2 separate regions of the Homo sapiens genome follow, and region 1 is linked to region 2. A link means that fine-mapping ties the variant in region 2 to the expression of a gene that starts in the linked region. Tissue or cell type: whole blood. Region 2 holds a variant in brackets; the other region holds the start of a gene. All regions are shown on one strand. Distances are from middle to middle.

What was found. PIP is the estimated chance that this variant, and not a neighbour inherited with it, causes the effect.
Region 1: it holds the start of KIAA1614-AS1, and the variant in region 2 is fine-mapped to the expression of KIAA1614-AS1 in whole blood (TOPMed, PIP above 0.99).

What each region holds. Positions count from the first base shown.
Region 1 is chr1:180,951,913-180,957,019 of GRCh38, forward strand. It overlaps KIAA1614-AS1 (KIAA1614 antisense RNA 1), which reads right to left and starts at 2,975. Exons shown (of 2, transcript NR_145481.1): 1 at 2,756-2,975. RefSeq lists a silencer at 2,030-2,569 and an enhancer at 2,605-3,210.
Region 2 is chr1:180,974,366-180,979,569 of GRCh38, forward strand. STX6 (syntaxin 6) reads right to left here. Exons shown (of 8, transcript NM_005819.6): 8 at 1-2,281. The coding sequence ends at 2,205. Among named protein-coding and RNA genes, the nearest start is that of KIAA1614-AS1, 22 kb to the left of the region's middle. The variant C/T (reference allele first, on the strand shown) is at 2,200.

The DNA of each region.
Region 1 (5,107 bases), 23 kb before region 2:
AAAAAAAAAAAAAAATCCTGGAACCAAGAAACCCAACCCTCAGCAGAATCGGGTTTAAAAGAGTGTCAGGGCAGCTTTCATTGGGCAAGAACACTGAAGCAGGCCTGTGGCCCAGGGACAAGGTCGTGGGGGTGGGGAGGCAGTCCTGTGCAGTGTTGGGAGTGTGTTCCCCCACCCAGGGCCTTTGCAGCAGGAGCCAGGTAGAACCCTGTCTTCATGATGCCCATGGGAGGAGAGGGAGGGGCTGAGCCCCATGGCTCACAGAATGGGGTAGGGGGGTGGAGGAGGAATTAGGGGGATCTGGCAGGTGAGCAGAGGGGCCAGAGGAACAAGTGCTTGGGGCTTCAGGCTGTGAAGAGGGCACTGGCACTCTTCAAAGTGTAGAAATGAGCCCACAGCAAGAAACTTCAAGTGTGGAGAAACCCTGGCTCCTCCTATACTGCAATTCTTGGCCTAAGGTCACAAAACTGGAGAAATTTCATGTTGAGAAAAGCTCCTGGGGGCCAAAGACAGCTCCACTTTTCTCTGAAAAGGACAACTTGCCTTCCCAGGTGGGAGGAGGTGGAAGGGGGTGGCTGGGGCTGGGAGGACGGGAAAAGGCCTCAGGCGTATCACCTCCCGGGCTGGTGACATACTTAGTCCTTAAATAGTCCTGCCAGGTATGTCCTGCTCATTGTCTTCATTTTGCATAGATGGGGAACCAAGTTCAGCAGCAGTGACAGGGCATGCAATCCTGCCCCTCTGACTTGGGGCCCACTTTTCCCACTGCAGCTGCCTCCCCATGCCAGAAAAGGCTTGGTGCTAGGGGAGGGGCACGAGGCACGCGGGACACTGGAGGCTCCCAGGCCTCTGGACGGTGACCTAATTCCAAGGAGGCAAAGGCGCTGGCATCCCAGCTTCTCCCTGGGGCAGCCTGATGTGCAGGCCCTGCCTTGTGTGGAAATGGGAGGGGGCTTTGGTTCCTCCAGCCTCCTGTTTGACCTTCCCCAACTGCCTGCATCTGCCTGCCTGGGGAGCTGCTGACCTCGAAGGCCTAGGGCAGCCCTGCCTCACACACTGGAACATCAGAACCTTTTTTTTTTTTTTTTTTTTTTTTTTTTTGAGACAGTGTCTCACTCTGTTGCCCAGGCTTGGAGTGCAATGGCACAGTATCAGCTCACTGTAACCTCCGCTTCCTGGGCTCAAGTGATTCTCCTTCCCCAGCCTCCCAAGTAGCTGGGACTACAGGCGCCTGCCACTATGTCTAGCTAATTTTTGTATTTTTGGTAGAGACAGGGTTTCACTATGTTGGCCAGGCTGGTCTCGAACTCCTGACCTCATGTGATCCGCCCGACTCAGCCTCCCAAAGTGCTGGCCTGAGCCATAGTGCCTGGGCCATCAGAACCTTCTTACTGAGAGCTTATTAACCAGGAACCAGGCCTAGGCCAGGCAAGAGCCCCCGGACTTAAGAAAGACCCGCAGCCTCAAGGGGCCCCAGCCCAGGGGGAGGCACACACACATTACAGCGCCGGATGCAGGGTATGCTGCAAGAGGAGCTGCAGCCGGTGTAGCCTGTGGGTAGCCTGTGGACAGCCTGGGGCCGTGATTCGTGGTTGGCCGGGTAGTTGGCAAGGGCGCCAACCGGGCAGGTGAGCACAAGCAGGGCTTTGTAAAACGAGTAGGAAGCTACAGCAAGGGCCAAGTGGCTCAGGCACAGAAACGAAGCAGCCACATGCAAAGGTGTGGGTATTCCCGGTGTCTAACTTATGTCCCTCCCGCGGTTCACAGAAGGCCCCTGACACTGGGACTACACGGAGCAGAAAGTGGCACCCCTTTGCCTCAGGCACCTCAGTCTCCTCGGGGCTTGGGGGCATTTTCAGAAGCCACCCGCAGAACCAGCGTCCCGGGCGGCGGCTGGTTTTCCCCTCTTTCCCGGGGGCCCCCCTCTGTCGCTGCGGGGTGCAGCGGCGGCGAGAGATATCCGCAGCTGGCACCCGGTGTCCCGGGAGGGAGAATCGGGGTCTGTCGCGGGCCCTGCGACCAGGAGGCGACTGTGCCCTCAGCAGCTGCCCCGCGCCCGCCCCGCCCTCAGGCCACTAGAGGCAACCTCGCAGCGACTCCGGTGCCCCCCCAAGTCTCCCTGGCAGGGCGGGCTGTCCCCACCGGCCAGGGCAGGCAGCGGGCGGCCGCTTGCTCTGCACCCGCAGACTCCGCGCCAGCCGCGCCTTCCCGGCCACGCGGCCGCCCGCGGAGTGTTCCCGCCGCGCAGACAGGAGGCGTGGGGCCAGGCAGCACAGCCAACAGCCTCTGTCCGCGTCCTCCCGCGGGGCCTCGCGCGGGCGGGGGTGAGAGGGGAGCGGCCCGTTGCGCTGCCTGGGGGTCGCCAGGGCCTTCGTGCCAAGGCCGCTTCCGCGAGGCGGGGTGTGTCCAGCAGGGCACCGGCTGTTAGAGCCGCGGGGGCCTGCAGCCTGAGGGTGGAGGGAGGGCGGGCTCGCGGGAGTTTTGCAAACCCCGCCCCCAGCACACGCGCGCACGCGTACACGCACACACACTGCTGGGCTCACCCTGCCTTTGAGAAACGCACGGCTGGGGAGGCGGACGGGGCCTACTGGTGCACCGCACGGTCCCGGGCCTTGCTGAAAGGTGATGTGGAGGCGGCGCGCCGAGCCAGACTGGGAGGATGAGCTGGAGCTGGCCGGAGGGATGGGGAGGAAGTGGGGCGACCTATGGACCCTCATGTCCGTGGGGCGGGGGCGGGGTGTGCAGGAATGAGTACCTGGTGCATGAGTGTCCCCAGCTTTCAGGCGTGCTGGAAAAACCGCAGGCCGGCTCGAATTTTGGAAACCAGTGTTAACCAGGACTTCAAGGACCTGCCTTCGTTGGGCTGTCCCTCGCCTTGCCCTGCCAGCTACGCAAATGTTCCAGAGCTCTGTTGAGGTCATTAAATCACCCTGAATCCATACGGCAACACTGCGAGAGAGAGACTATTATACCAGGCTAACGCACGAGGAGTCCGAGGCTCAAAGGTTAATTCACAGATAGATCCAAGGTCTGGGAGCCAATCAAAAGCGGAGGCAGGATTTGAACCTGGCCCTCTGTGACTTCCAGCCAGCATCCTTCCACCCTCCTGGGTCCCTCTGCAGCTCACCTCCCTTGGAGGCCCTCGAGCAGCTCTGGAGGCCCTGCTTGGCCTGCCCGCCACTGACCTTCACCAGGACGCAGGGGCTCTCATTTTGGTTTTTCTTCTGGGAAGTGGGGCTGGAGAAGAGCAGGCAGATCCCTTTCCAGGGCAGTGTTTCCAAACTGCAGGCACAATTCACTCATGGGTTATAAAAGCAATTTTGTGGGTTGAGACCAACATTAAATTAAAATAAAAATTAGAGTGCTTTATACAAGCCAAGGGTAGGTTAGGTTTTGAGAAATGCTTCTGCAAGTGTGTACCGAGTTGTAATTTAAAGTGGGTTATGGCTCTGTTCTGCGGGGAGGCAGAAGAAACCCTCAGGGCTATGGCCTGGCCCCTGGGGTAGTGGGGAAGAGGCCTCCATCCTAGATGCCCAGGTGTCCTGGGCAGCTGTTTGTTTCCACCTCTTTTCCGGGTGTGCCAAGAAGAGGCCTATGACCCAGGAGAGGAGGGCAATGATGCGACTGTGGACTTCTTAGTCTTCCAAACTGCCTCTGGGCACAGGATTCTTGTGTGGGTATTATTGGCAGGAGCTTTGTTTGTTGGCTCCTGGATCCCACTAGCCCCAACTTCACCCATCCATGCACCCACCTACTCTCTCATGCTTTATGCATGTGCCTTGGCTGGAATGCCTTTTCCCTGTCCCCCCACAAACCCCGTGGCAGCCTTCAAAAATATTAGAGGTGTCTGTCTCTGGAAGCATTCCCGATACTGCATGCTGACTTCGGCTCCTCCCCTTAAATCCCATAGGATCTTGTACCAAGGGCTCTTTATTGTGACTCTTTAGGTAGAATTGCTTGTTTATCCTCCACTAAACTTACCTGGCAACAAGTGGACTTCCCTAGTTCATCTACCCAACCCATTTCCCACCCCAAGTCCCCAGACTAGTTCTGGAGCGACTCAAAAGGCCCTGCTGCACCTGCATGAACAGGCCTTCCCCTTTCTCCCTCCCTCCCCCACATATCCGCAGAGAAGTTTCCCTCTTTCCTACAAAGCCAGAGCACCTGCTTAGAAATGGCAAGAGCCTTCCTTGGCAAGAAGCTCTGCCCAGCGCTCTCTGGCTGTGGGTTGGCCAGGTCGGAGTGCTGGACCCTGAGGAAAGGGGCTGCGGGGACTGGCGCTGATATGTGCCCATGGAGCCAGGGCTTAACAGCTGCCCTGCCAGTCCTGGAGGGTATCCGGAGCTCTCCTGTGGCTGCCAGGCTGCCTGCCGGGCCTGCCTTTGTCTTGTCCTTCTGCAGTCTGGGCTCAGGCCCCTACTCACAGTGTGGAGCTGCCCTTAGGGTTCTGGCCCAGTGCCAGGCACTGGGGAGGGGCCTGTCCTGCCCTTAGGATACCCTCATCCCCAGGATGGATACAGCTTTGGTTGTGAAAAAAGGCCAGCGTGCAGGGCTACAATGGAAGCCCCAAGGCAGGAGGCCCCACTCTACCTAAGGAGCAGAAAGGCTCCCAGGAGAGCCAGCTCTAGGACCCCATGCCCCCCAAGACCCCAAGCTCACCAGCCTCCATCCAGCTCTGGTGTTAACTCAGGAACAAGGGGTGCTGGCAGCCATGGGAGTGGCATTCAGAGGCCACAATTTTCATTCTCATCCTGAGCTCCCCAGACTAAGTCTCCAGGCTTTTCTGGGTTTATACAGTAAGGGGTTTGGCTCATTTACTTTTTGCTTATTTCCAGCCAAATACACAAAAGCTCCAAAACATTTATCAGCAAGGCGGACCTGTGTGAAACCCTGAGCCAGTAGATCTCTTGAACCCTACAGTGGACTTGAAATGCGGTCAAGTCCAAGGCAACTGATATCCATGCTTTATCCCAGGTACTTCTAGTTCAGTGCTTTAATCTGCCACTAACTGGCACCGCTTTTGTGACCCCTCTCCCCACTCCTCAGCCTTATGTTACCACTTCTCATGTTAGAGGGATGGCTTAGTGAGACATCTGCTTGCCACCAC
Region 2 (5,204 bases):
AAATAATTTAAATCAGTGAGGTAAGCACGCCGATTTGAAATATATCCAAACATCATTAAGCCTCTGGGTCATAAAACTTGGTCCCTGAACTAACAGGAGTATCTTACTCATTAATGACTAGGTTTGTTCCAAACGGCCCCTGCTGACACACATGATCCTTTTGTGTGGCACAATAAATCTGGTAATAGCAGAACAATAGCATGGCTTTTAAATAGGGTAATTTTATAATTCCTTAAGATGCTGGTTTGCTTCTTATAATGTGTTGTGTGGATTACAGTACTTAGACAAGGTTCACATTTACTTTAAAAGACTTCTATATTTTAATGCAAATCTAAGGATCATCCCCTTTCTTAGTTTATAGAAGATTCAAACTTTGTAAAACATAAATAACCTAGTACTCTAAACATCTGAAGCCCTTTGTAATACTCACTGTTTTTTCCTAATTTGAAAATAACTTATTTATATATCAAACATTAGAGCGGAGTGTAAACATGGATGTCAATCACCCTTTTAGTTTCATAAATTTGCTTTTAGCTTTCATCAACAGGCATATTTTCTTAACCTACCATGATCTCAAATGAGATAAAATATCCTTCTTCAAAAATTGTTAAGAATATTTATTAAAAAGTGCAATTCAAAAGTTAGCTGGGCAAGCACATCATTGCAAATCACAAAAAAGGGTGAAAAAACCAAAACCCCCAAATAAAACCACATGAAATACAAACAAAACAAAACAAAAAGGTTTAAAAAAAAAGTGTGCTGAGGAATGCACCCAAAAAGACAAGGAAATGAGAAGTCAAAGCTAGAACTCTATCCAGATGTTGCTGTTCTTTCCAAGTGCAAAAGAAGGTGGTGAGGAGAGACCAGCAGCCTCCACCACCGAGTTCTGGCTCTGGGTCCAAATACTACTTTAATATCAGATTATTCATCAGGGAAGTTATAAAAATATCCTATATACATGTGCACATTTGAGGCATTTTAAAAAGTCATCAGAAGGTTAAAGTTTAGTGTCTCAGCAGTTTCAGCTACTTAAACTCAATTAAAGCATCTATCATTTAAATTTGGATTGGCTCAGTTATTTGACTGCAGATGATAAAATCAAGCTGTCATCTTAGGGAAAAAAAAGAACCAAGTTTACCTACACATCCTTGCCATTACCCACAGAGTAAGAGAAGTCTGGCCCAGAGCTAACCTTTTATGTCATTACGTTTCTTAATAAATGTAATAAATGTACTAACCACTCCCAACCCCAACCCCCAGTGTAGAGTGCCCTAAGAGTAAAAGAACTGTAATGAGGACAATCTGGTATCCAAATTCATTCAAGTGTGTTACTGAGCTGTTTAGCAACAACATATGTAGCAATCACCCTCAAAACGCAAGCTGCACCTCTGGGGAGGAAGCCCTGGTACAGCAACATCAAGTCGGCAAGGATCAGGAGCTGACCTGTGGCGACATCATTAACCCTTCCCTAAGCTATGCCAATGCAGAACCCTCTTGCTCTTTTTAATTGCTCCTGTCAGTTAAAGCCACAAGTTGTTAGCACCCCCAAACCCCAGGGTGTTTCATTATTTTCCATTAGTTATTCTTACCACAAAAAAAAATGACCTGGAAAAGCAATTTTATCTTAGCATTTATCCCTGAAAAATGAAACACTGCATTTTCTGTCACAAACTGTTTCTGAGCCTTCTGTCCTCAATAATCATCAGCTCTCAGGGGATAAGAAATGCTACAGCAATGGGAAACGAAACATACCCAGAAGCTCGTATTCCTGACAGGTTTCTTTAGATGGGACAGCGGTGCACTGTCTGAGCACGGGGAAGGGTCTGAGCAGAAGAAAAGAGCTGCCAAAGATGCATGGAATGAGCAACAGCAAAACACCAGTGGAGTCTGTAAGTCCCTCCTCAGCAAACGAGGTCCCGGAAGGCAAGGCAGCAGCTAGTTCTCCTCCGAACTGGACAGGCGGCATGGGGCTTCTGTTGTCCAGCTGCAGCCAGGAGTGCAGACATCTATTTCCTCTTCCCACTGGCCCTTCCAGCGCTGGGATGGAGGAGCCATGTCAATTGTGGGGTCACACGGAGAAAAGTCAGTGCAGCAGTATGTTTCCAGGATAGGAATGTGAGTAGACGGCAATGTCACACGTGCTCAGCTTCTCCTCCTCCCCTCGGTTCATATGCAGGAGGAACTCGCACCCAGAGGCCC[C/T]GCCGTCACAGCACTAAGAAGAGGATGAGCACAACCAACAGGACTGCAAAGAGGATGGCTATGGCACACCATTGGCGCCGATCTGGAAGGCAGGACATGGGGATTAGCTCTCACAGGGACTCCACATTCCCCAAGATACAGTTATATGGAATTTATGGCACCCTTTGAAGCAGAAAAGGGGCAGAACGTGCAAATGACGGGGCCATGATCTTACACCTGCCTAGGTGCCTGATGCTCTAATGCTGCTCTGTTCTTGGCCTGCACTTCGCATGCAGTCACAACTTTGCCAGTCCCCTGAAAATGTCTCGTAATAATTACATGCTTTGTGTCTCAAGTCTTTAATTAAAATCTGCGGATCTTAGCTTTCTGCTGGTAGTTAGCATATCCTCAAAAAAGGTGTTGGCAATGGTGTTACAGATCAAAGCCTGCCTGCTTTAATCTCCCATAAAAGTCAAGTCATTTAATTAAACAATAATCACATTCTTTTCTCAATGAGCACAACGGGAGGAGGGAAAGGAGATGAAAGCTACTGCTGGTCACTTCAGGAAATATACAGCTGAAAAAGCAAGCTCCAGTGAGACAGCATGATTAATTTCACACCACACCTAGTCAAGTAAGATTACTTAACTAGTAACTGTGTTAAAGTACCTTGTACAGCTCCTCTGTAAATGAAAGTGGAATTTTTTTTCTGAAACTTTCTGCCCTACCAACAATTTGGAACAGCAGGCACAGGAAACAACTTGACTAGAGTCCATCCAAATGGCTGAGAGCAGGGAGGCCCTGTGAGACAGAAGGGCCCAGACAGGCCCTGGGGGAGCCCTGCTGCAGCTCACAATCCTGTGGTCCCAACTCTACAACAGCTGCCCCGCAGGGCTGTTGTGAGAATTAAACAACACAACCCTGTCATACACACACTGTGCAATACCCAAACCTAGGGCACAGAGGATGCTGTCAACATCAGGATGCTTCCTTAATTTGGAGACATGTAGAAAAAATGAGCAGTCCTTCCACTGATGAGTTTTGGCATCTTCCACAAAGGGCCCGACTGATAACAGAATTCACTAGCGTATGAAAATGCAGTACAACCACTAGGAATAAGAGTTCCATTTAAATAGAAATATAAAGACATATTGATTCACTAAAGTTTCTTTGAAAGCCCACTGATTTTAGCACACTATAGTTATTGAGAATCACGTTGCAAAAAGATCTCAATCTATGAAAATAAACTGCTAAACTCTCCACAAGGCAAAACATGTACTTAAAATTATTTTAAATATTATGGATATCAAAGTCTTAGAACTGGACAAGAGAACTGCCACCAAATTATAAGTAAAGCAAGTACCTTCTAAGTGGTGATCACCTTGGTCTACCTCAGACATACTAGAAACTCATTTAGTTAACTCTGAGCAGGACAAAGACCCCAGGTCCATCACTCGTTGTTCTCAGGTAGGACTGTTCCAAAGGTCTAGGGAAGGCAGAGATGGCCTACTGCAGGTCACACTTTGACCTGTTTAACTATTACTTCAATGGTCAAGAAAACTTTTATAACTGGCATTCTCTCATCTGATTAAAAATGTTAAATTTTTAATTTCCAGCCAAGTATGTAAGAAGCTTAGAAGTCATCACTCTGTCGTAACAAGTAAAAAGCTGAACAAACTGAAAAAGCAAAACTCTTCTTAGATCCATCAGAGAAGTGAGGTCACATGGTAAACTGCTGCCCCTAAAACTGCAGAAACCTACAGATGCATACAGAGAATCACAGCTTATCAGAGCAGAAACCCACGAAGCAACAAACTCCATAGGAACCAGTGTTCTGGTAGGAAAACCTTAGCTTTAATTGATGAGTCGCTGAAGGCTCAGTGTGGACAAGTCTGAGATGAAAAACAAACAAACAAAAACACTCCAGGTGGACCCAGGCGAAGGGGACCCCCACACTTCTGTGGGTTTTACCTCCAGGAGCTTGACCAGGTTCTCAGCGAATATTGGGAAAAATCCCCTCATGCTTCCAGCAGGCGGAGGGGAAAAAGAATCACTACGAAATACTCCAGAGCACTCTGTTCTAAACAAAGTCTGCCCTCAAAAGAAACTAACCAGAGTCTGACTAACCTGGGGGAAGGAAAATACCCAACTCCAGTCTTCTCTAGCCATCCAGTTCCACCTAACAGTAGAAAAACTGGGAAGCACTAGTGAAGTTCACGGGCCAGGGGCACAGGCTCACCAGAGGCTAAGACCTAATCACAGGACTAGAAAATGCCACCCCCCGGCCTCACCACCCCATCTATGGTAAAGGTCTATTTACCACAGTTCCTTTTACCCAGTATATCATGTCCACTTTTCAACAAAAAGGTAAAAGGCACACTAAAGGAAAAAGCAACAGTAGGAAGAAACTGCATATGCATCAGAACCAGAGTCAGATACAGCAGGAATGTTGGAATTATCAGAAGAGGAATTTTTAAAACTATGATTAATATGCTACAGGCTTTAATGGAAAAAGTAAACAACATGCAAGAACACATGGATAATGTAGGCAGAGACATGGAAATTCTAGAATGAAAAAAATAGAGATCAAAAAGACTACACAAATGAAGAATGCCCCTAATGGGCTCATTAGTAGGCTAAACACAGCTAAGGAAAGGATCTCTGAGCTTCACAATTTGTCAACAGAAACCTGAAAAAAGAAAAAAAGACTGAAAAAAAACCTGGCACAGAATATTCCAGAAATGTGGAACAACTATAAGACTTACCATAACATCAATCAAGATAATGTAGTATTAGGAAAATAGACAAGCAGATCAATGGAACAGACAGTCCAGAAATAGGCTGACATAAATACAGTCAACTGATCTTTCACAAAGGAGCAAGTGCAATACAACAGAGCAAAGAGAGTCTTTTCAACAAATGGTGCTGAAACAACTGGACATCCATGCCAAAAAAATGAAGTTGGAGGCAGACTTTACACCTTAACAAAAATTAACTCAAAATGTATCCACAGACCTAAATGTAAA